7 linked regions of the Homo sapiens genome follow. The protein of the gene in region 4 interacts with the protein of the main gene of each other region in a biochemical or structural test. Each region holds a gene or a part of one and is shown on either strand. Other genes may lie near its edges. The genes, in order: LCK, SNTA1, LNX2, PTPRZ1, CARD11, MPP7 and PARD3.

Evidence for each region.
Region 1: of the proteins of PTPRZ1 (region 4) and LCK, one has a biochemical effect on the other in vitro, tested with the Homo sapiens proteins (one large-scale study listed by IntAct).
Region 2: the proteins of PTPRZ1 (region 4) and SNTA1 interact in a test that uses a peptide from one of them, tested with the Homo sapiens proteins (one large-scale study listed by IntAct).
Region 3: the proteins of PTPRZ1 (region 4) and LNX2 interact in a test that uses a peptide from one of them, tested with the Homo sapiens proteins (one large-scale study listed by IntAct).
Region 5: the proteins of PTPRZ1 (region 4) and CARD11 interact in a test that uses a peptide from one of them, tested with the Homo sapiens proteins (one large-scale study listed by IntAct).
Region 6: the proteins of PTPRZ1 (region 4) and MPP7 interact in a test that uses a peptide from one of them, tested with the Homo sapiens proteins (one large-scale study listed by IntAct).
Region 7: the proteins of PTPRZ1 (region 4) and PARD3 interact in a test that uses a peptide from one of them, tested with the Homo sapiens proteins (one large-scale study listed by IntAct).

The regions. Positions count from the first base shown.
Region 1 is NC_000001.11:32,257,765-32,261,264, reverse strand, and holds part of LCK (tyrosine-protein kinase Lck), read right to left. Parts: intron 1-3,500. UniProt on the Homo sapiens protein: Non-receptor tyrosine-protein kinase that plays an essential role in the selection and maturation of developing T-cells in the thymus and in the function of mature T-cells. Plays a key role in T-cell antigen receptor (TCR)-linked signal transduction pathways.
Region 2 is NC_000020.11:33,437,264-33,440,763, forward strand, and holds part of SNTA1 (alpha-1-syntrophin), read right to left. Parts: intron 1,764-3,500; coding exon 1,578-1,763; intron 1-1,577. UniProt on the Homo sapiens protein: Adapter protein that binds to and probably organizes the subcellular localization of a variety of membrane proteins. May link various receptors to the actin cytoskeleton and the extracellular matrix via the dystrophin glycoprotein complex.
Region 3 is NC_000013.11:27,565,030-27,568,529, forward strand, and holds part of LNX2 (ligand of Numb protein X 2), read right to left. Parts: intron 2,811-3,500; coding exon 2,611-2,810; intron 1-2,610.
Region 4 is NC_000007.14:121,876,161-121,879,660, forward strand, and holds part of PTPRZ1 (receptor-type tyrosine-protein phosphatase zeta isoform 1 precursor), read left to right. Parts: intron 1-3,500. UniProt on the Homo sapiens protein: Protein tyrosine phosphatase that negatively regulates oligodendrocyte precursor proliferation in the embryonic spinal cord. Required for normal differentiation of the precursor cells into mature, fully myelinating oligodendrocytes.
Region 5 is NC_000007.14:2,935,868-2,939,367, forward strand, and holds part of CARD11 (caspase recruitment domain-containing protein 11), read right to left. Parts: intron 2,965-3,500; coding exon 2,812-2,964; intron 2,166-2,811; coding exon 2,040-2,165; intron 1,368-2,039; coding exon 1,170-1,367; intron 1-1,169. UniProt on the Homo sapiens protein: Adapter protein that plays a key role in adaptive immune response by transducing the activation of NF-kappa-B downstream of T-cell receptor (TCR) and B-cell receptor (BCR) engagement.
Region 6 is NC_000010.11:28,293,065-28,296,564, reverse strand, and holds part of MPP7 (MAGUK p55 subfamily member 7), read left to right. Parts: intron 1-3,500. UniProt on the Homo sapiens protein: Acts as an important adapter that promotes epithelial cell polarity and tight junction formation via its interaction with DLG1. Involved in the assembly of protein complexes at sites of cell-cell contact.
Region 7 is NC_000010.11:34,381,797-34,385,296, reverse strand, and holds part of PARD3 (partitioning defective 3 homolog), read left to right. Parts: intron 1-1,042; coding exon 1,043-1,168; intron 1,169-2,374; coding exon 2,375-2,757; intron 2,758-3,500. UniProt on the Homo sapiens protein: Adapter protein involved in asymmetrical cell division and cell polarization processes. Seems to play a central role in the formation of epithelial tight junctions. Targets the phosphatase PTEN to cell junctions.

The sequences.
Region 1 (3,500 bases), on a different chromosome or scaffold from region 4:
AAAAAAAAAAAAAAAAAAAAAAAATTAGCCAAGCATGATGGCGTGATGGCATTTGCCTGTAGTCCTAGCTACCCAGGAGGCTGAAGTGGGAGGATCACTGAGCCCAGGAAGTCAAGGCTGCAGTGAGCCGTGATTATACCACTGCACACCAGTCTGGGCGACAGGGGACCCTGTCTCAAAAAAAGAAAAAATTAATTAAATTAAATTAAAAAAAATTTTTAAGTTAACATTTTTTCTCCTCCAACTATAGACCTATTGATTTATTGAACATTTTGTCCAAAATGTGTGCCAGCTTCGTGGCTGAGTTTCTTGGGCCAATGCTTTACATCAAGAACAGGCAGGTGGTCGGATGCAATGGCTCACGCCAGTAATCTCAACATTTTGGAAGGCCAAAGTGGAAGGATCACTCGAGGCCAGGAGTTCAAGACCAACCTGGGCAACATGGTGAGAACTCATCTCTACAAAAAATACAAAAATTAACCAGGTGTGGTGGTGCACGCCTGTAGTCCTAGCTACTCAGGAGGTTAAGGTAGGAGGATCGCTGAGCCCAGGAGGTTGAGGTTGCAGTGAGCCAATATCATACCACTGTACTCTAGCCTGGGGGAAAGAGCAAGAACCTCTCTCAAACAAAACAAAACAAACAAAGCAACACAAAAAACAGCAGACAAGACTATACTTCCTTTAGGGATCATTTCTTTAGTTCAGTTTCTCTGAACATGTAGAGCACAAAAAGTAAAAAAGAAAAAAGAACAAGCAGACTATTCTACTGCAGACCATTGTTGTACTCTGGACCACCTCATGGCAAAATCTGTCAGAAATCATTTAGAATAGCCAGGGCTGGAGGCTCACGCCTGTAATCCTAGGGCCGAGATGGGAAAATCACTTGAGCTCAGAAGTTCAAGACCAGCCTGGGCAACATAGTGAGACTTTGTCTCTGTAAAAATAAAAATAAAAGGCCAGGCGCAGTGGTTCACACCTGTAACCCCAACACTTTGGGAGGCTGAGGTGGGTGGATCATGAGGTCAAGAGATCGAGACCATTCTGGCCAACATGGCGAAACCTCATCTCTACTAAAAATACAAAAAATTAGCTGAACGTGGTGGTGCACACCTGTAGTCCCAGCTACTCGGAAGGCTGAGGCAGGAGAATTGCTTAAACCCGGGACTGCACTCCAGCGTGGCGACAGAGCAAGACTCTGTCTCAAAAATAAAATAAAATAAAATAAAAATAAAAATAAAATTAAAAAAAAATGAATCATTTAAAACATTTTCTTCGCCTTTGCCCCGACCCAGACTTGATTAATGACAAAGCTGCCCATGTTCAATAAAGAGCCTTAGCTATTCATGCCCACATAGAACCCTCATGACAATATCAAGCAATATCAAGAATCAGGGCTAGCAGGCATGGCAAATAATTTCTTTCTTTATTTTATTTTATTTTGAGACAGGGTCTTGCCCTCTTGCTCTCTTGCTCTCTTGTGCCACTGGAGTGCAGTGGCAAAATCACAGCTCACTGAAGCCTCGACCTCCCGGGCTCAAGCAATCCTCCCACCTCAGCCTCCTGAGTAACTGGGACAACAGGCATGTGCCACCACGCCTGGCTATTATTATTATCATTATTATTATTATTATTATTTTTATTTTTTTAGATGAAGTCTCACTCTATCGCCCAGGCTGGAGTGCAGTGGTGCAATCTCGGCTCACTGCAACCTCTGCCTCCCAGGTTCAAGCAATTATCCTACCTCAGCCTCCCGAGGAGCTGGGACTACAGGCGTGTGCCACCACACCTGGCTAATGTTTGTATTTTTAGTAGAGATGGGGTTTCACCATGTTGGCCAGGGTAGTCTAGAACTCTTGGCCTCAAGTGATCTGCCTGCATTGGCCTCCCAAAGTGTGGGATTACAGGTGTGGCATGAGCCACCGCACCCAGCCTCCAGCTATTTTTTTTTTCTTTTTCTTTTTCTTTTTTTTTTTTTACCTGAGAAGCTGTGAATGAGAGGGCCCGGGTAATTTTTGTATTTTTTTAATTTTTGTAGAGACAGGGTTTTGCCATGTTGCTCAGGCTAGTCTCAAACTCCTGAGCTTAAGCAATCCACTGCCTCAGCCCCTTAAAGTGCTGGGATTACAGGCATGGGCTACCGTGCCCCGTCAGTAATTAATTTCTAGTGGGTAAATCAGGGATGTGTCCTGGGCTACCTCCTTTTTCATATTTGTTTAAATACATAATACTTTTTTTTTTTTTGAGATGGTATCTCACTCTGTGGCCCAGACTGGAGTGCAGTGACACAATCATGGCTCACTGCAGCCTCGACCTCCCATAGCTCAGGTGATCCTCCTACCTCAGCCTCCTGAGTAGCTGGCACTATGGGTGGGCAACACCACGCCTGGATAATTTTTGTATTTTTAGTAGGGACAGGGTCTCACCACGTCACACAGGCTGGGTTTTTTTTTTTTTTTTTTTTGAGACGGAGTCTCGCACTGTTGCCCAGGCTGGAGTGCAGTGACGTGATCTCAGCTCACTGCAACCTCCACCTCCCAGGTTCAAGCGATTCTCCTGCCTCAGCCTCCCGAGTAGCTGGGATTACAGGCACCCGCCACCATGCCTAGCTAATTTTTTGTATTTTTAGTAGAGACGTGTTTTTTAGTAGAAACTAATTTTAGTTTCACTATGTTGGTCAGGCTGGTCTCGAACTTCTGATGTTGTGATCCACCTGCCTCCGCCTCCCAAAGTGCTGGGATTACAGGTGTGAGCCACTGCGCCCAGCCTGGTTTTTTTTTTTTTTTTTAAAGAGATGGAGTCTCACATCTCACTCTGTCACCCAGGCTGGAGTAGTACAGCACATGATTGTAGCTCACTGCAACCTGAAACTTCTGGCCTCAAGTAATCCTCCCACCTCAGCCTCCCGAATAGCTGGGATTACAGGCAGGAGCCACTGCACCTGGCTTTAATTCCGCTCTCTCTCTTTTTTTTTTTTTTCCTTTAGAGATGGGATCTCACTCTGTTGCCCAGGCTGGAGTGCGGTGGCATGATCATGGCTCACTGCAGCCTCAACCACCTGGGCTCAAGTGATCCTCCCACCTCAGCCTCCTGAGTAGCTGGGACCACAGGTACACACCACCAAGCCCAGTTAATTTTTTTATTTTTTGTAGAGACGGGGTCTGCCTATGTTCCCCAGGCTGGTCTTGAGCTCCTGGGCTCAAGCAGTCCCCTTGCTTTGGCCTCCCAAAATGCTGTGATTATAGGTGCAAGCCACCACACCTGGCTTAATACCTTTTTTGAATGAACTCTGTAGCCTCTCGACACAGAGAGAACAAAAAAAAAAGCATTATTTTGGATGCAAACAAAATGGATTTATTTTCACAAATTGGGAGTGTCTTGAACATAGAACTGATTCTGCTAGTCAAGTATCGCTATAAATAAGGGATATAGAGCAATTATTCTAATTGGTATTTTAGTAGAAGTCCCCCAACCAGTAACGTGAATATACCTGATAATCCCTT
Region 2 (3,500 bases), on a different chromosome or scaffold from region 4:
GAAAAAAAAAAAAATTAACCAGGTGTGGTGGCATGCATCTGTAGTCCCAGCCACTCAGGAGGTTGAGGTGGGAGGATTGTTTGAGCCCCGGGGGGTGGAGGGTGCATTGAGCCAAGATCATACTACTGTACTCCAGCCTGGGTGATAGAGCAAGACCCTGTCTCGAAAAAAAAAAAAAACAAGAAAAAAAAATGCATCCATGGCATTTAAATAGATATACCTAAAATATAAAATAAAACTTTACATTTTATTTTCTTTATTTAAATTTTATTTTATTTTATATCTGGGTCAACCAAGGACCGAGAACCTATTTGCTTCTGTGGCCTCTTGGACACTCCTTTAGGGAAACCAAGGCAACCCACCAGGATTTGGGCCTGGGACTCAACTCAGCAGCTTCTCTGGCCGTGTTATTCTCCATCAGCCCCCGCCACCTCCCTGTGCCTGTTCTGGGCCATAAGCCAGAGACACATTCCTCAGGCCCCCACGGGGCTTCCAGAGCTGACAGAGTTTGAGGAAAGGGCTGAGCAAAGCAGAAACCTCTTGAGAGACATGGCACAAGATGGTCATGGGACAACCTCAGCAGGAGGCGTGTAACAACTGATGGGGAAACCGAGGCCCACAGAGGGCAAGGGTCCCACCCAAGACCACACTGTGAGGGAACAGTGGAGAAAGCCATTCAACCAAGGTTCCTCCACAAAACTCCTCTCTGATCCTGGCTGGAAGGATTTGATGTCCTACTCTATAAAAGCCAAGGCCTCTGGGCGTGGTGGCTCATGCCTGTAATCTCAGCACTTTGGGAGACTGAGGTGGGTGGATCACCTAAGGCCAGGAGTTCAAGACTAGCCTGGCCAACATGGCAAAACCCTGTCTCTACAAAAATATAAAAATTAGCTGGGCATGGTGACGCACACCTGTAATCCCAGCTACTTGGGAGGCTGAGGCAGGAGGATCACTTGAACCCAGGAGGCAGAGGTTGCGATGAACCAAGATCATGCCACTGTATTCCAGCCTGGACAACAGAGCAAGATTCCATCTCAAAAAAAAAATAAAGTAAAATAAAAGCCAAGGCTTCTCCCAAAGGAGGATGGGTCTTGGGGTTTTAAGGCCCAGGCACTAAAAGAACCTGAAGTCAAGAGCTCTCCAGGCCCCACAGGAAAGAATCTGACCTGCCCCTTCCCCAGTCCGCACCCCTCTCTCCCTGTGTCACTCAGGTGCTGGCACACTCTGCCATGTACATTTTTGCCCTAGTCGCAACAACCCAGAAAGGCAGGAGCTACATCCCTGTTTTACAAATGAGGAAACTAAGGATCAGGGAAATGAAGTGACTTGTCCAGGGCTACACAGCTAGTGACTGGAAGACAGAAAATGCAAATCAGGTCTGCTTGGCTCTATGCCAACTCTCCCTCCACCACCCCACACTGTCTTCAGGCAGGTCCCCAAATTCTGTTTCTGTTTTCAGTCCTGCCCACCTCCCAGCCCCCAGTGCTGGGATGGGGCCTTCTGAGGCCTGGGGGAGGTAGAGAAGCAGTGGAACACCTCCACCCAGCCCCTCTGAACCCTGGAACGTCAGTGCTTACCCTCCAGCACCACCTCCTTGCCTGTCTTCTTGAGGACCTGCACCGCCTCATCATGGGTAGCAGAGGACAAGTCTTCCCCATTCACAGACAGGATGGCATCCCCCACAAAAAGGGCCTCTGTCTGGTCAGCTGCCAATCCCTTGAAGATCTTGGAAATGAGAATAGGCATCTTGTTCTCCCGGCCGCCTGCACAGGTACAGAAGGAGGACAAGACTTAGGCAGATACTCCAACACTTGGGAGTCACATCAAGACACAATTATTTCTGAAGGCTTCCCTTGGTGCCTAGCCCAGTGCTGGAAAAGGCAATGGGAGAATAAAGGGAATCTGAGAAAAATCTTGGAAGTTTGGGACACTAGTAACACTAATAATAAATCATTTTTGATTAGGTCCGGTGGCTCATGCCTGTAATCCCAGCACCTTAGAAGGCTGAGGTGGGCAGGTCACCTGAGGTCAGGAGTTCAGGATCAGCCTGGGCAACATGGGAAAACCCCGCCTCTACTAAAAATACAAAAATTAGCCAGGCACCTGTGGTCTCAGCTACTAGGGAAGCTGAAGTAGGAGGATCACTTGAGCCCAGGAGGTCGAGGCTGCAGTGAGCTGAGATTGTGCCACTGCACTCCAGCTTGGGTGGCAGAAGGAGACCCTGTCTCAATAAATTAATTAATTAAATAAATCATTTTCAAAATTCATAATGCTATAGTTTGATCCCTGGATCTTTTGATTAAGTGCTTTGGGTGTTCACCAGTGTTTGTGCAACTTACAAAGTGCTTCAATCACTTTTTCTTAAATGTTTTCGATTTTCTCATGTAACCCATAAATATATATGCCTACTATGTACGCACAAAAATTAAAAATGAAAATAACCGGACAAAGTGGCTCACACCTGTAATCCCAACACTTTGGGAGGCCAAGGTGGTCGGATCACTTGAGACCAGTAGTTTGAGACCAGCCTGGCCAACATAGCGAAATCCTGCCTCTACTAAAAACACAAAAAAGGGCCAGGTGCGGTGGCTTATGCCTGTAATCCCAGCACTTTGGGAGGCCAAGGCTGCCAGGTGGATCACCTAAGGTCAGGAGTTCGAGACCAGCCTGGCCAACATAGTGAAACCCTGTCCCTACCAAAAATACAAAAAATTAACTGGGCGTGGTAGCGGATGCCTGTAATCCCAGCTACTCGGGAGGCTGAGGCAGGAGAATCACTTGGACCCAGGAGGCGGAGGTTGCAGTGAGCTGAGATCACGCCATTGCTCTCTAGCCTGGGCAACAAAAGTGAAACTCTGCTCAAAAAAGTAAATAAATACATAATAAAAAAATAAACAAATAAAAAAATATGGCTGGGCGTGGTGGCTCACGCCTGTAATCCCAGCACTTTGGGAGGCCAAGATGGGCAGATCACCTGAGGTTAGGGGTTCAAGACCAGCCTGGCCAACATGGCAAAACCCCATCTCTTCTAAAAGTACAAACATTAGCCGGGCATGGGGGCGCATGCCTGTAATCCCAGTTACTCGGGAGGCTGAGTCAGGAGAATTGCTTGAACCGGGAGGCTGAGGTTGCAATGAGCCAAGATTGCACCATTGCACTCCAGCCTGGGCAATAAGAGCGAAACTCCATCTCAAAAAATAAATAAATAAATAAATAAATACAAACACAAAAAATTAGCTGGGCCTGGTGGCACATGCCTGTAGTCCCAGCTACTCAGGAGGCTGAGGCAGCAGAATTGCTTGAACCCAGGAGGTGGAGGTTGCAGTGAGCCAAGATCACACCACTGCACTCCAGCATGGGCGACAGAACAAGACTCCATCTCAAAATAAAACAAAAATACAAAAATTAGCCAGGCATGGCGGTGTGTGCCTATAATTCCAGCTACTCAGGAGGCTGAGGCACGAGAACTGCTTGAACCCAGGAGGTGGAGATTGCAGTGA
Region 3 (3,500 bases), on a different chromosome or scaffold from region 4:
TCATTAAACTAGATGTAAGATTGCCATTATTGGAGTTATTAGTATACAGGTTTCCATAAACAGTAATAATGCAGTGGAATTTCTACAATGTAGACTTTATAACTGAATTAATTCCCAAAAATATGGTTGATAATTTCAGATAATTACAATCTTTTGAGGTCTAAAGATTCAGTAGTGTTAATGAACCATTCTCTAAAATAGAAACAAGCCCACTGATGAAATGTATTAGTAAAAAAACTTAAACAAATCTGTTATATTCAAAGAAATATAAATAAAAACATTTGTAACAATACTGGGCTAGTAGCAAAAAATAAGTGTACACTTACATTTCAGCTAAAAAGCCCAGAAGTGGGAGAGTCAAAGAACACTCAGTGGGCTGCAGAAAAGGACTATCTGCCCTTCCTGGTCCTGACCACCAAAGTGTCAAGATGTCTGGGAGGATGAACCTGGGAAATGAGCTGTAAGAGTCGCTCTCTGCAAAATCAAGTCAGGAGCTAGGATGTAAATAATACAAGGGGTCCTACAAGTTGTGCCAGCCTGTGCAGCTAAAGTACTAATATCATAAAATGCAGCTAGGATAACTAAATAGCTAGCTATGACAGGATCAGAAATCTGATTTTATATGAGCTGGATTAGTTATGTTCCTGTATTCGTCTATTACATCTAAGTATTTGGTAAAAAAAACACTGTTTGAAAGCTCAGTCTGTCTCAGCCATGCCTAGGGGTAATGAAGGAAAGGTTTTAGGCTTGGTGTTAATTATTTTCAGGAATAATACACCATGAAAAGCAGCATACAAGCGGGAGTGGAAATCAAACCCAAGAATCCCTAGTAGGGTCAATCCTGGCTGCCTTTGTAGACTCCCATAGCCCCAAGTCTAGAGATTTCTTTTCAACAACTAAAAATCCTAACCAAGTTTTTCTTTTAATAAAGGAGATGGCTATTCCCAACAGCATCTTATATTCAAATTCACTCTTTTATTGACTCAGCAAATATTTTCTGAGCACTTACTACAAGCTATGAGAAATCTGTATCATAATCTGTACCATTAGGGTGGTTGCAATTACCTTAGATCATGCCTACATACGTAAAATGTTCAAACAATTCTCTGTAACTCATCACGTGCCAAGTGATGAAGAGAAAAGTGATGAATGCCAATAATAACTAATGTAGGAGGAATCAGTATGGGGGAGAATGGCTGAACAAAAGCTTTAAGGATGAAGGTGAACAAACTGGCTCATGAGATGAGGACAGGCTGCAATGTGGGAATAAGGTGTTTGCAGGGAAGGAAGAAGACTGCTATGTCTGGCTCTTCCACTAGATTGTATATTCCACGAGGACAGGTCAGTATTTTGCTCTGAAATGTACCACCAGCAACTAGTATAGTGCCTAGAATGTTGTGAGAAATGAATGAGCTGGTGTGCCTGAAATGAAGAATTGAGATTAACAAGACAGGTTGTAGAAGAGACCGTGGAGGACCCTGACTATTAGATTAATCAGTCTGGACTTGACCTCCTAGTTGAACCTTTGCAAGGCAAGCAGGGTTACTGATGTATTAACCTGGCAGTGATTGTTTCAGATTTAAGGGAGGAGAGTTGGGAGGCAGAAGTATATGATGGGGTATTCTACTAAATTAGATATGAAGAAGAGAAGTCCTAGACTCAAGAAGTGGCAGGAAAATGGAAGTAGGGGGTAGATATCAACAGGTCATGGTGAAGGACCGAACCACAAATCCAAGGAGAGAGAGGAGTCCCTGCGCTTGGGTTGACAGGAGACATTTTTTCTTGTTCATGAATATTTCCTCTCTCTCCTAGAAGTTATCCGTTTTTAAGCTTCAATTATTATCACCTTTGTATGATGAAAATGGTCCAGGCCGGTATTAACATCAACTCCGGGATTGTAGAACTCTTACCATCCTCCTCCCCTCATCTCAACTTGCCCTCTAATAAAATATCTTGTCCCATGCTAGTTATTTCTGGAGAATACCTGTTTCTTCTTAAAGATCATCTTCTGAAAGGGAAAACAGTAAGGGGAGCGAAGGGGATTATTGAAAATGCAGAGTTAGAGTGTTTGCTGAGGAGAGTGCATTAGGGAGTTGATAGGAGATGACTGCAAGATTTCTGAACTCTATCTTATAATCTGTGGTATAAATTATGAGTGCTGCATGGTTCCTTCTTTTCTAGATTTTAGTAGTCTGTATAGAAAAGGATAAATCCAACAATGAAGGTAATGAATGGGAAAACTGGGTATAAAATAATACCAATGAGATGATAATTTCAACATGGATGAAGGTGACCCTTGAACAGTCATTCAAGAAGTCCAAGCAGGAAGAGGCTAGTCAGCCCAAGGAAGAGTCTAGCTAGCTCAGCAAGCCTGAGATCATGTGCCAAGCCACATCGCATGCAGGAATGAAAATTAAGATAGGAAGAAAAAATACTCTGTGTATATGGGAAAATACCACAAATTACACATAAATTCTGATGTTTTGCATATAGAAACAGTAAAACTAATCTATATATAATTTAGGTTCCAAAACAGCACAATTTTCTAAGGTTTAAGTGTTAAGAATGGAACAAAAAGGCACAAGTTAACAGAATAATTAAAACTGATACCTGAAGAATCTGGTCTCCAGCAAGAAGTCTCCCGTCTCTGGCAATGACCCCATCCCGATAGACCTCCTGGATGACAATGTTAATCAAAGGTGTTTCGTTGCCACCCACAATGCTGATTCCTAACTGAATGTAAGGATTGGACCGATGAATTTCAATCGTGGTGATTTCTCCTTCTGGTAAACTAAGTGGCTGTTGTGTGGCTGCCAAGTTAAAAATGAGACAGACAAAAACAGATGTTAAAAAAATAAACAAACCCAACAATTTATATTCTGATTATCTTCAGGTAAGTATGTCACATTAATACATGATTAACAGCTAAGCAGTATCACTGGATAAGAAACAAAATGACAAAATATCTGTTGTTAAGATTATCTAAAAATTTTCTCTACTAAAACTGATCAGTAAATAATAAATAGCTACTATGTATCAGATCACTAGGGACGACACAGTGATCTGATTAAGAAATATGAAAAGAAAGTCATTCTGTCCTCATTGATGAGAGAAAATTTGGACCACGAAACAACTGTACATAATGAGAGGCAGTACAAAGGAAACACTAGCTCTGTGGCATAGAAACAGCACAGGTGTTGAGAGAGTAGCCACATCAAGCTCGTAAGAAGAGGTGGGTCTTGAACGGAGACGTAGGAAATGAAGAAGGCGCATAGTTGCGGCAAGGAAAATTCAAATTTGTAGTAGAGCTTGGAAAAAGAAAATCATTTTTAAAAGGAAATATCAAGGGCCCACTACCATGATATGCCCAAGATCCATGACTACGGGCCTTCTGTTAACTTCCTAGTGGGTAACAGAGCAGTGGCTGGTACCAGAGGTGTATAACGGTGAGATGCATGGTCTTGGAGTCAAATACAAACCCAGTCATTTACTGGTTGTAT
Region 4 (3,500 bases):
ATAACTTTCCAGACAAAAAATTTATCAGAATACATGAACCAAAACAAATTTTTCTTGACCCACTGAACAGGTGTATCTTATGGGAAAAACTACAGTGGCTTTCCTGTAAGGAGGCTTAACTATGAGTCATAGAGGAGAGGTAGATATTTTAAGAGCTTTTAAGGAATAATTTCTTCCAATTAATGAAGGAATTCAGGATCTTTGAATTAAGTGAATTATAGTGCTGCAAGGTACACTAAGTTCAAATGTTTAAGTATTATTATTAAATATGTAATGAATCAGATTCTGTACTTCTCAGTCACATCTTACTGCTTTAAGAGCCACATTAACAATAAATTATACCCAACTCCTCTGGAAGAATTAACTTCTTAATTTATGCTGGTTATAGAGTCTGAAATTCAATATGTTGTGACTCTCAGTTTGATCTATTTATCCTCTGAAAACAAATTGTAACCACATATAAAAAATATTCATGCCTTTTTCCCAAATAATAACTAGCCTCTATTCAGAAAATTAATTCCTTTTCATTGCAGAGTTGCAATTTTCTTTATTTCATTTCTCTCTCCTTTTTACGTATACTGTGGTTGCTTCCAGTCAGGGAAGTTTGCCAGGAGAAATCATTTCATTGATGAATTCATTTCTACTCTCATGTCTGCACTAGAGATTCAAGATCTTGCTTAAAATTTTATGTTGTGGGAATTTTGCTTCTGGCAAAAATTCAGGTTTTTCTGGAAGCATAAGCTGCGTTTTCTCATTCCCTTTAACTCCGAAAAGATTTGAGTACTGTCTAAAGTGAGAGATTTGCTTGACCACCCATTTGCTGACCGTTCAGACTGTTGCATGGAAATGGAACCCCCTCAGTCAGGACCAGAAGATCTCAAAGGAAGGCATAATTAAGAAGATGAGCCTGTGTTTCATTTTCAGTTACCATCTGCTCAAGTGTCTACTAGGTGCAGTTTCAGCACTGAGCATTTTATGTACATTTTCTCATTTCATTCTCCTCAAAACCCTTTGATATTGGTGTTTTCATCTTACACCTTTTACAAATGAGGGAACCCGGCACAGAGAACTCAGATAAGTTGCCTAACATCACAAATCCTGATTCAGCCTGTGTATTCCTTCCCAATCCAGAGCCTGAGGCTTTTCCTCTTTTCATTCCCAGGATCAATTTGCTGTTTGGCATTCACTAGCTTGCTTTCATGTGATGTGATGGTACATTTCACAGTCCCATTTGCTTTTCTGAGGATCCCTTTCATGATTTTGCCCATGTACTCTTGTATTACTTTTTTATCCTTTTTTGAAAATTAAGGCATAATTTACATTTTTACCATCTTGAAAGTTTTCACCGATGCATATGGTCATGTAGCAATCACTGTGATCCAGATACAGAATCGTTCCAGCCATGCTACTTTAACTACTCATTCACTAGATGTTCACTAAGTGCCCGACATCTGCAAGGCACCATGCTAGGCGCTGATAATTCAGCTATGCATCAACATACAGAGACTTAAACTCATGATGCTCACAACCCAGTTAATCTGATTCAATCCCACAATGAAAACTTTCTTTAAATCTTGTTTTAAAGATACTTTTTCTGTTCACAACTAGTCGAAAATAAGTCTTTTCCAAATATCTCTTAATGTGTTGAATATGTTAACTCTCAAATACTTTAAAATGCTTCCTGCTCCATTAAGAATTCCAATGGTAAAAGTCAGAGCCAATTTAAACAAGAGAGAGATATGTGTGTATATACATATATAAATGTATATATATGCATATACATAAAAGTGTATATATATATATGTGTTTGTGTATATATATATAAAATATATACATTTAAATTGTATTTCAACTTTTAGTGTCTTATTGAGATTAATTCCTAGAAGTAACTTCAGATTACAAAAGGAAACCAATTTTTCTCTGTGTTTAAAGAAATTAAAGAAATTAAAGAAAGAAAAAATATCATATAGCACAATCTTAAAACACTTGTATTTTAGAAATGTCCTGTTTAATACCATAGCCACTAGGCAGATGTAGCTATGTAATTTAAAATTTATTAAAATAAAACAATTCAGTTCCCTAATCACACCATCCACATTTCAAGTGCTCAGTAATCTGTGTGGCTAGTGGCAATCACATGGGACAGTGCAGACATGGAACATCTCCATCTGGCAGTGTTGTTTTGGAACAACAACAAAAAACGCTGGTAAAATAATGATTGATAGAACTCATGAGGAGTCATCAACTCAACTAGAAAAATTTCTAAAGTCATTGAAATTGTTTGAAGTGTTCGTGCATGTGAGTTAGTTATGGTTTGTGTTGTGTTAGCCTGCAAACATCCTAGAAACATGATGGGGCCTTTGGTAGAGCAGTAATAGGTGAAAAGAGTTCAGTGGCCACTTTGTAGCCTTTATGGACTGAGGTTGAACAGAAGAGATTAACTGCTGGTTCGGGAGTGAGTGCTCTGCTCCCATAGTACATTTTCCATAATTTGTTCTGTTATCCACTGTATTGTTTTTCAATTTATCTGTCTCCTTGACTCGACCACATTATTTGAGGGTAAAGAATCCATTCTTACATTCATCATTCATTCATTGTTAAATTCATTCATTGAAGAATTCAATGAAAAATTCAGTCAACATTGCATTCTTGAACTTAGCACTTACAGTAGGTGCCAATAAATCTTTAATGTATAAGGTTATAGAAAGATTGTACCATGAAGCTTCTTAGAAAAAAAAATAGTTGTTTGTTGTTGAGACTGGCCAATTTTCACTGGTCTTTCCCTCTTTTGATTATGATCTCAGTCCGGGAGTAAGGTCAGCATTCACCTTGACCTGTCCATCTTTAATGTCACTTCTGGTACGCGAACTTCACTTTCACTGATTCTCCCAGAAATACACGTAAGCATATAGGCATCCTCTATGAGGTTGGAGCTGTCATGAATGTGATTAATGCCTGTACAAGCATTACATAGATCCAGACACTATCTGTGCATGGAAAATAAAGTTCCTGTGATTGATACTGAGTGTGTACTTACAGAAGCAGTCTTGAGTGAGCTTTTAATTCTAGAGGAGTTGGCACCAATGAGTTTTGGATACATCCCAGGGGGCCAGAACATCAAGTCAGCTAGTGTGCCACTTTGTATGTGTACAAGTGCATGCGCCTGTGCTGCTCTGGTGTTGGGGAGGAGAGGGCAATGAGGGATGCAGGATGGTCAGTAATGAGTAAATAAAGTATCTTGAGCCCATGAACACTGTATTTTCAGTCAGCCAAAAGCTATCATATTGGTTTAAGTCTTCTCTAGTCAAGAAGGCCGTAAGAGATAGTGACACAAAACAGTTTTGAAAACCAGGCAAATGATGGGAAGTGCAGTTTTATCATGTGGATGTACGTGCTTTTGGAGTTTGTCAATAGTTTTATCATTAATCCTAGAGAGGATGTGCTACACAAGTTTAACTCTGCACATAGCAAATATTTGAACTGAGTTGAATTCAAATGGA
Region 5 (3,500 bases), about 120 Mb from region 4:
CAGCAAGGAAGTGGCCAGGTCAAGCTTGCCTTTTTTTTTTTTGAGATGGAGTCTTGCTCTGTCACCAGGCTGGAGTGCAGTGGCGTGATCTCGGCTCACTGCAACCTCCGCCTCCTGGGCTCAAGCGATTCTCCTGCCTCAGCCTCCCGAGTAGCTGGGACTATGGGCACGCACCACCACGCCTGGCTAATTTTTTTGTATTTTTAGTAGAGACAGGGTTTCACCATGCTGGTCAGGCTGGTCTTGAACTCCTGACCTCGTGATCCACCTGCCTCGACATCCCAAAGTGCTGAGATTACAGGCGTGAACCCTCGCACCTGGCGCCCTGCATCTTCTTATTTATGTTTTTAATTTTAATTTTTTAAATTTTTAAAAATTTTCGCTCTGTTGCCCAGACTGGTCTTGAACTCCTGCCCTAAAGCGATCCTCCCACCTCAGCCTCCCAAAATGCTGAGATTACAGGCATGAGCCACTGTGCCCAGCCCTACCCTGCATCTTCTAACTTCAAAATGAGTGGCTTCCACTCATCACTAAACAGACACAAACACAACAGTAAAAGATGTGGATTATGCTGGGCGTGGGAGGGAACTTCCGGCTTCAAATATATGAAGAGCCAACCGGGCACAGTGGCAAACGGCTGTAATTCCAGCTCTTTGGGAGGCTGAGGCGGGAGGATCGCTTGAGGATAGGAGTTTAAGACCAGCCTGGGAAACAGTGAGACCTCGTCTGTACAAAAAAATTACAAAATTAGTCAGGAATTGTGGTGTGTGCCTTTAGTTCCGCTACCCAGGAGGCTGAAGTGGGAGGACTGCTTGAGCCCAGGAGTTTGAGGCTGCAGTGAGCTGTGATAGTGCCACTGCATTCCAGCCTGGGCGACAGAGTGAGACCCTGTCTCAAAAGCAAAACAAAACTAAACAAAGGACAAGGAGCCATTCATTGCACAGGGAAGCGGCGACTGGTCACAGCCCTCAGTGGGTGCCAGGGGGCACCTGGCTTCTGGTTTGGGGCCCCACAGGGAGGTGGCGACTGGTCACAGCCCTCAGTGGGTGCCAGGGGGCACCTGGCTTCAGGTGTGGGTCTCCACGGGGAGGTGGGGACTGGCCACAGCCCTCAGTGGGCACCAGGGCCCACCTGGCTTCAGGCGTGGGGTCCTGCCCGTCCCGCCCCACCTGGTCCAGGTTGTTGCTGTCCTTGGAGAGGCGCCGCAGCTTGCTCTCCAGGTTGACGATGCAGGCCTCCCGCCGCACCATCTCGATCCTCATCTCGTCGTTCTTCTCCTCCAGCTCGCGGATCTGCTTCCTGTACTTGTCCTTTTCGATTAAGCACTGCGAGTACTGTGTCTGAGCTTCATCTCGGGAGTGGAAGGCCTGCCAGGGAGAAGCGGGACGAAGGCTGCTTTGGGGGTTGCACCCCAGCCAAATCCAGCTGGGCCCAGGGACAGGCATCATCCCAACCCAGGGGCCAGCCACATCGTCTGTGGCTCTCGTCTGCAGTCTGACCCCTGGGCGTGTCAGTCACTACCTTCTTCATTAACGCGATCACAGAGCCGATGGTCCGACCCTTGCTAGTGGCAGGCTCTGTGTTGAGAGCTTTGATGCAGTGTCCCTGGAAGGCCACAGCCTGTCCCTATGAGGCGGTGCTACCGTAATTATCCCCATTTTACAGATGAGGGCACTGAGGTCAGGGGTGGCAGCTTGCCTATGGGCATACACCTTATGAATGACAGGGCTGGATCTGAACCCATCCTCTCACCCGAGAGAACACACAACATTTAAGAACCATGCTTGGTCGTGGGAGCTGCTGGAGCCCAGCTCGGATCCCCCTGCTACCCAAACGCCTGTGACTTCCAAAAAAGCCTTTTGGAATTCATCTTTTAGAATTCATCTTTGGAACAGAAATGGGAAAGATGGATTCAGGAGTGATCCCTGCATTGTCAGTGATGTTGCACTGGACAAAACACTCTGAAGGAGCCGGTGGTCTGGGGTGCGGGCCCCGCTGTGCAGCCTCGCCGCCCTGCACGCTGCAGGTGGTGCCTGTACCTGGTCCCGCTCCCGCTCCACCTCCTCCAGCTGCAGCATGACCGTGTTCATGCGGTGCTTGTACATTTCACAGTCCTTTCCCAGGGTCGAGCACTTGAGCTCCAGGTCCTCCTTCTCCTCCAGGTACTGTGAACCACACAGAGAAATCAATATGCGCATCGAGCAATCAATAGGTCAGGACTGAAAGCTGTTCTCTGCTCGTGCCTTCCCGCCAGCTGGCTGGAGCTGGCCTGTCCCTCCCTAAGCTGGCATGGTCAGGACATGGCCTGCCCTTCTGGGAACCGACTATCTGACTGTTGGGGCTCAAGGTAGGAGACCAATCAACCCAGCATTGTTGTGAACCCACTACAGACCAGGTAACATAGGGGAGGACAATGTGATCTCAGTCAGGAGGGGGACACAGGTGCTAAGCTGGTGCAATAGCTTGTACATGCCCAAGGGTGGCCGGCACATCTGGGATCCTGCAATCCGCAAGGTGTGGGTGAGGCTCTGAGACTCACACCTTGGCAGGTATGTGGGTTCCCCCAATCCCAAGCCCTCACCCTCCCCTCTGCCCACATTGCTCCCACCCCCAGGCCCTCATCTGGTTGATAAACTGCAGCTTCTGCCAGGGGCTGAATACTGGGAGGTACAGGGGATTTATGCCAGGGGTCTGATCTAGTCCCTGGAAAGGAGTGTGGGGTCAGGGAGGTCCTGCTGACACACACCACTGCCCCCTGGTGTGAAGGGGGCCGGCCGAGGGCACCGCTGGGCGGGCGATCCCCACTCCCACCTTGTCTCGCAGCTCCTCTGCCTGGCGGGCCTCCTCCTGCAGGTTGTAGATCCTGTTGACCAGCTCCTGCCTGTCCTCCAGGGCCTCCTTGCGGTCGTGTTCCAAGATGTCCAGGATGGCCTTGTCTGAGTCTGGCAGGCTGCGCTTCCCGGCCTGGGTGGGAGGGAGGAGGTTTCAGAGGGTCAGGGTCGGGGTGGGGAGCCAGGTGGTCCTGGAGGGCAGGGGACAGAAGAACCAGCAACAGATACGGACAGAGCAGAAGGTTTTGTGCCTGGAAGGTAGAGGCAAGAAGAGATGTATGTCCCCTGGGGTCTCTAAGAAGCTTAGCATTTAAGAAGTTTATTGCCTGGAAAGAAGCAGAAAACTGGCTTTTGCTTGGGCGTATCCTGGGCCTTTTGTTCTCCCTGGCGCTTATCGGAGCGCAGAGAAGCAGTTGCTGCACCCGAAACACTTTTTAGATGCTGCCCCTGAAATATCAAGGAATCTGTTCTGGAGAAGCTGGGTTCATCCTCGGCTCTGAAACAGAGCCTCATATACCAGGCAGCCACTCCTGGGGGGACTGTTCTGGAGGGAGCAGGAGGATGCATGTTTTTTTTCTTGCCCTGTAGATATGTTTTGGGATGTCACTCCTCAGCAACTTCCTCCTCTGTGCCCACAAGTGACTCGGCGATGACAAGTGTGGGGAGGCA
Region 6 (3,500 bases), on a different chromosome or scaffold from region 4:
ATCCATTTTGGGTATAGAACTGGCAATGTTAGTGGAGATTAAAGACTAGCTGGTACGACTGCATTTTGCAAGATATTTTGAAGACAACTTTGGACTTTGAAAATGCAGGATAGGAATCTAAGTGAGAAAGTCTTTCAGTGGTTGGGGTGTGTGTGTGTTCACTTCAGTTGCACTGAACTGTGGGTGGGGAGGAGAGCAATAGTAAATTGTTTCTTACCAGAACACTGCCAGTTCTTAGGGGATTTGGTGGAGATTTGGGAGAGAGAAAATAAATAGGATTCAGCCCTTCTAGGAAGGTCATTCTTGGCAGTGCCTTCAGCCCTTAGGAGAGCGTGGGCATGGAAAAGGTGGGTGGTTGTAAGTAGCCAGGCAGATTAAAAGGCTGCTTCCTAGAGTTTTCTTTACCTTTGATGACCTTAATCAGGTCATTAAGCATTTTAAGACAGGTTTATAGCTCTCCTGTGGTCCAAGCTTGGACTAAGTACTCCTTAATCTTCAATTTTATGTTTTAAATTTTTGGAATAAGTAGAAACCTGAAATTTATAAAATTAATGACTTGAGTATGCGAGTGAATAGCTTCAGAGAGTTATTTGGCTTATGGAAGATTTCAGATTATGGTAGGTGCTTGAATATACTTATTTCTCATACTCTTTCTTCCATCCCTTTAACAACAAAAAAAGGCCTTATTAGAAATAGGCAAACTTGAATACACATAGAGCTGTACTGCTCAAATTGAGTACTTGAGTTGGGGAGAAAAGTCTCCCGGTCTAGATATAGCTTTGAAAAGAGAAGGATCAGGTAGGATGCCGTACACGGCAGGTGTGTGCAGGGACAGGGATAACGTTAACCCCTTTTGCTGTGAATATTGTCAGAGGGTCTGATGTGTAATTAGGCATTCCTTAGCTTCACTCCTGATAAAAACACACTCTTGGACAGTTTCTCTGTATGTGCACTTAAAGCAGTTTGAATCTTGTTAATCAAATATTTCTCGGGGTTGTAACTTCTTTTTTTGGCATTGGGAAGACTGTTGAAGTCATGTTGTAAAAATTTGGAGTTGAGCCTGGGATCAAAATTTGGAGTTATGGCCCAAGATTTATCAAGCTTCTGCTGATATTCAAAATATTGTTTTTTTCTCTTCCTATTATGGCTTCTGATTACTTCTGAAGAGTGAGTTCAGACCTCTGTGCTCTAACGCTCATCAGAGTACCCTTTTTGTACATAGTATAATCAGGATAGAGATTAGGCATTTTGTCAAGTTTGGGAGAAAGAAGTTGAGCAGTGAGGAAATGAACTAACACTGTTTTCGTTTCTTCATAGTCATTTTAAATAGGATACAAATTTTATATTTTAGAAGTTTCAAAATGGTAGTAATTTCACCTTTCACATTATGCTTAGTATGAAAAATTTCTACCAGTGGTTCTCAAACTTTAGCATACCTTGGGATCACACGGAGGGCTTGTGAAACCTTAGGCAGCTGCCTTCCAGCCCCAGAATTTCTGATCAGTCGGTCTGGGAGGGGAGGTCCTGGCGATTTGCATTTCTAATAAGTTCTAAGGCCATGTGCTACAGCCACTGCAGGGGCCAGCCACTCTAGGGGGAAACGTAAGTGTAGTGGTTAACACTTTGAAAGACCTGGGTTTGAATCTCTGCTCTGCTGCTTTCTAGTACTTTGACTTTAGGCAAGTTTCTTAACCTCTGTTGTTCCGTCTCTAAAGTGGAAATAATATAGTATTTTGTTGTGAATGTAAGTGGGCTCCAATGTGTAGAAGCTCAGGGAACAGGGCCTTGCAGATTGCAAGCATGCAATAAATGTTTTCTTTTATCCATAAAAACAGTACGTATATAAAATAAATAGGATCCTGCATCTTATACAATTGAAGCAAAGACAGAAAATTTAATACTTAACCTCATTTCCTGGCACTGTGCTGGGGAAAAAATATGATTACTCAATTACTTTTTAAGGAGTGAAGGAAAAGTTTGTGGATCCTAGTAATTTTCCAGAAACATTTTTTAGAGGCATAGCACATTCATATCGATGCTGCCTCCTCCCTCTTCCCCTTCAAAAAGTTTGCATTCTTTAATCACCGTATGTTGGACTCTCACAATAACCCTTATAGTTTACATTTTATATAACAGGTATTTTGAAGGTTGCTTCTGGGAGCTGAATGACAGGAAGTACCTGAAAGTCATCTTTAGAACACACTGTCGCCTGTACTATGACAACTTTGTATTTGATGACCTTGAACGCAGTTCTTCTCGAGACGGAGTCTTGCTCTGTCCCCCAGGCTGGAGTGCAGTGGTGTGATCTCAGCTCACTGCAGGTTCCACCTCCCGGCTTCACGCCATTCTCCTGCCTCAGCCTCCAGTTTAAAACATATTTAAACTGGACTACAGGCACCCGGCTAATTTTTTTGTATTTTTAGTAGAGACAGGGTTTCACTGTGTTAGCCAGGATTGTCTGGATCTCCTGATCTCATGATCCGCCCGCCTCGGCCTCCCAAAGTGCTGGTATTACAGGCGTGAGCCACCACGCCCAGCCCTTGAACGCAATTCTTTGGGATCTCATCTCTCGGCTTGCTGAATGCCTGGTTCATTTTCTTTCTGCAGACCTGCGGGATCTCACCTCTGGCTATCCTTTCATTAGTGAAACCCTCTTTCCATCACTTTCTGTCACTATCACTGTCTTACTTGTTAGCTGTTAACACTCTCTTATCATTATCTTATTTGTTTCCTTTTTATTGTTTCCTTCACTAGGACATAAACCCTATGAGGGTAAGGGCTTGATCTTTTGCTACTCGGTCGCTAGGATGGGATGCAGTTCCTGGTATGTAGAGACTGAATACCTGCTGGTTGGGTGAAGGGACCTGTGACGCGGAGCTGCCCCGCTCCGCTCCCTCCCCAGCTCAGGGGCTCGGACTGGAGTTAGCACTCACTTCATGGCACACTGTCATGATTGGTCCGTGTAGAGTCTCCCACCTTATTTTATTGTATCTTTCCCCTTCATCACCTATCCCCATTCATGTTCTTCCTTGCCCCCAGGGGACCCTCTCTCTGGCATATGCATAATTCCCTTAAGTACGACCAGATTGTTATCTCATTGACACTTTCACCAGCTGTTGCTCCCTGCATTCTTGCTGGCATGTGGCATTTTCTGACCTTATAATTTTTTCCAATCTGATGCAACAGATGGAGCAATCCAGCACAAAGTGATATGTTATTGTTCTTATTTGCAGCTATCTGATTACTAATGCAGTGGAATATCCTATCGTATACTGTGTGTGTTTTTCCTCGGTTGAGTTCGCCATTTATATATCCTTTGCCTCTTTTTCTGTTAGCTTTTCATATCTGTTTCCCATTTTTCTGCCCTAATTTATAGCAGTTTTCTTCTTTTTTCAGTCTCTCGTTGGATTTTAAATGGTATACGCATCTTTTGTTTTTCACCTGTCAGATTTTTTCTTTGAAATCTTTCATTAAACGGAATCTTTAATTTTGTTATGATC
Region 7 (3,500 bases), on a different chromosome or scaffold from region 4:
CTGGGCATGGTGGCGCATGCCTGTGATCCCAGCTACTCAGGAGGCTGAGGCAGGAGAATCGCTTGAACCCAGGTGGTGGAGGTTGCAATGAACCAAGATCATGCTATTGCACTACAGCCTGGACGACAAGAACGAAACTCCATCTCAAAAAAGAATAAAATAAGACTAAAAAAATAAAAATAACAGCAATCAGAGCTAGGTTAAGACCCCTGTTGCTTATACTGTGATTTAAAGAAGTATTTCTTATTTGTCCCAGTCTGTATAGAATGTCCTGTCAGTTATGAAGTTAGTGTTCTAGAGCAAGTAGGGGGTCTCTCAAAGGTCATTCACACTTTTCTTTCAACCTGAGTGAGTACATATGTGGAAGAGATGAATGGTGATTGGCATTATTTGAACCTCTCACTGACGTTTTTCTGTTGGGTCATTTGTTTTTCCAAATGGGAATATTGACAATAAATGACTTACTTTTGGGAGACCTGACAGGTTTTGAAATTCACAATACTAAGCACTATCAAATTCAAATGCAAAGCATGGAAACTCCTTTATTCCTGAAATCTTTCCTATTATCATTCTCAAACCTGCAGTGCAATGAGGTTAGCTTTTCCTCATTACCTTTACTTTCACAGAAAGATGGGAGTTGCAGTCGTCTTTTAAGCTAGCGTGCCAGCTGGCTTAAAACAGAAAATTGCCCAAGCCATTCAAAAATACATGCTTATCCATCCTCCACACTGCAATACCCACTCAACCATTAGGCGGGCTCTGTTTGGGGCATTTGTAAACAGAGAGAGTGTTATAGCTTGTTCTAGAAACATAATACTGACCAGCCAGAAACTGATTTTTTACATTTATGGAAGGGATGCATTTTTACATGTCATTTTAACGTTGTGGTTTTTGTCTGTCATTTAAAAATGTATGAATAGTCATTTTAACATGCTCCTTTGTAAGGACATCTTTGTAAATATAATAACAGCATTAAAGTGGTAAGGCAGTGTGCATGGTGGAGATATTACATGTGTAATCATTTGCATTCTTAATGTTCCAGAACCCTGGGGTTATTAGTAAAACGATTGGAGAAAGGTGGTAAAGCTGAACATGAAAATCTTTTTCGTGAGAATGATTGCATTGTCAGGATTAATGATGGCGACCTTCGAAATAGAAGATTTGAACAGTAAGTGTGTGCTCGCTGCACTTCTGTTCTTACTTGCATTAGGCATGACAGAGTGCAGTCAGTTGAAATGCTTCAAACATGTCTGTGATCTCAGTCTGTATACTGGAGAGGAATATTTTCTGCCATTAGCTTTTAAAAATTTAAACATACTCAGTAATTAATACCATTAGACTATATTTCAAAATGTCCTCTGATGGATATAGCTCTTCTTAAGTATTATGGCCCCCATTTCAACTTTACAATTTTGCTGGTTCCTCTCCTTTTGGAAAATTGACAGTGTGCCCATTTTTATCATACTTTAACTCACCCGTCCACCTTTGCTGCACACAGTTTCTCTAGATACAAACAAGCAGATAAAGCTGTTTGTATCTGCTTGAGGTTGTATTCAGATACACTTTATCTTGGGTTGTATTCAGATACAATATTGGGTTGTATTCAGATACACTTTATCTTGATTCAGGCCCTTAGTCAATGAAAAACATAACAGTTGGCCAGTTCTTATAAAACAAGGCAGGAGCAAACAGAACTCTTAAGAACTTGAGGTCCTGACCAGGGAACCAGCATGAGAAAGAGCTGCTTCCCAGGCTGGTTGTATGGGTGCACTGTGACCCACAGCTGTCAACATTTTGAATTATTGAGCCTGGATTGCTGTTCTTGAGATTTTTACATATACCAACTTAATAAATAATTAATAGTTACTTTCTATAGTCTTCTAAGTGTGTGTGTGTGTGTGTGTGTATTTTAAAAATTTTAAATACACATCTAACCCAATCCAATATTCTAAATATAATTATAAAGCTCTGTCTTTCTTTGAAAACTTAAATTGAAGTATTTTGTAATGTCTACAAGTTGTATTAGACAATGTTGTAGAGAGAATGTTCCATTTGGTTTCTATTATTGAAATTATAATACTTGTTATACTTAAAACATGTTTAATGATTTACAGTTGAGAGGACAGAATTTTATCTGTAGTTGTAGATAATTTTTCTATTTTTATTGAGAGAATGAGAAATTTATATTTGAAGAAACAGCTATTGATAGATCAGAGCTGCAAACTTGATTGATAAATGGGTTATTAGAATTTTGCTTTTCAATTTCAACAGCCTGTCAGTTCTTATTGCTTAATTAGTAAACTTAATTAAGCTCATAATATCTTCTAGTCTGCCAGTCTTAATTTGCTAATTTTCTATTCTTTCTCAAACCCAGAGCACAACATATGTTTCGCCAAGCCATGCGTACACCCATCATTTGGTTCCATGTGGTTCCTGCAGCAAATAAAGAGCAGTATGAACAACTATCCCAAAGTGAGAAGAACAATTACTATTCAAGCCGTTTTAGCCCTGACAGCCAGTATATTGACAACAGGAGTGTGAACAGTGCAGGGCTTCACACGGTGCAGAGAGCACCCCGACTGAACCACCCGCCTGAGCAGATAGACTCTCACTCAAGACTACCTCATAGCGCACACCCCTCGGGAAAACCACCATCCGCTCCAGCCTCGGCACCTCAGAATGTATTTAGTACGACTGTAAGCAGTGGTTATAACACCAAAAAAATAGGCAAGAGGCTTAATATCCAGCTTAAGAAAGGTACGACCTATCCTGTTTTTGTTTTGTGGAATTTCTTTTCTTAGCAGCAACACACAAGGGTAGAAATGGAATTTATTTTAAAAGTCAACCTACTAACCCAAAGCACCCTGAGTCTTATCTAATTATTTTGTGAAAGAACTGATAGATTTTTTAAAGTTACTTACCTTTTAACATATTTCAAATTGTATTTCTTATATGTCTCAGGTTTATTTTGCTCTGTAGAAATTAAAATGTAAAAGTGCAGAGAATAAGACTATGTCTATGAGAAGAAGATAGCAGTTACTGTAGTAAAATTTTTGATTGTGAAAGAAAATGGCTTCAGGACATTAATATCAAATGCAGAACAATAGTAAGGATTTGACCATTTTGACTGCCCCATTTGCTGTATAAGTCCAGCCCTCAAGGAGGACTTTAGAGGTAGTGCACGTCAATCTCAGTATTTGATGTGGGGAGGGACCAATTTGTTTGAGGCTGCCAGGAGTTTATAGTAGGTTGCTGAGAAGCCAGGCCATTGACTCTTGTCTTTTGTTTTCTTGTATTATTGCATTACTTCCCTTTCTTTTTTTTCTTTTCTTTTCCTCTCTTTTCTTTTTCTTTCTTTTTTTTTTTTTTTTTTTTTTTTTTTTTGAGACAGGGCCTTTCTTTGTTGCCCAGGCTACAGTGCAGTGGTGCAGTCATAGCTCACCGTAGCCCGCAACACCCCATGTCAGCCTTCCAAGTGCTGTGACTAGAGGCACATGCCG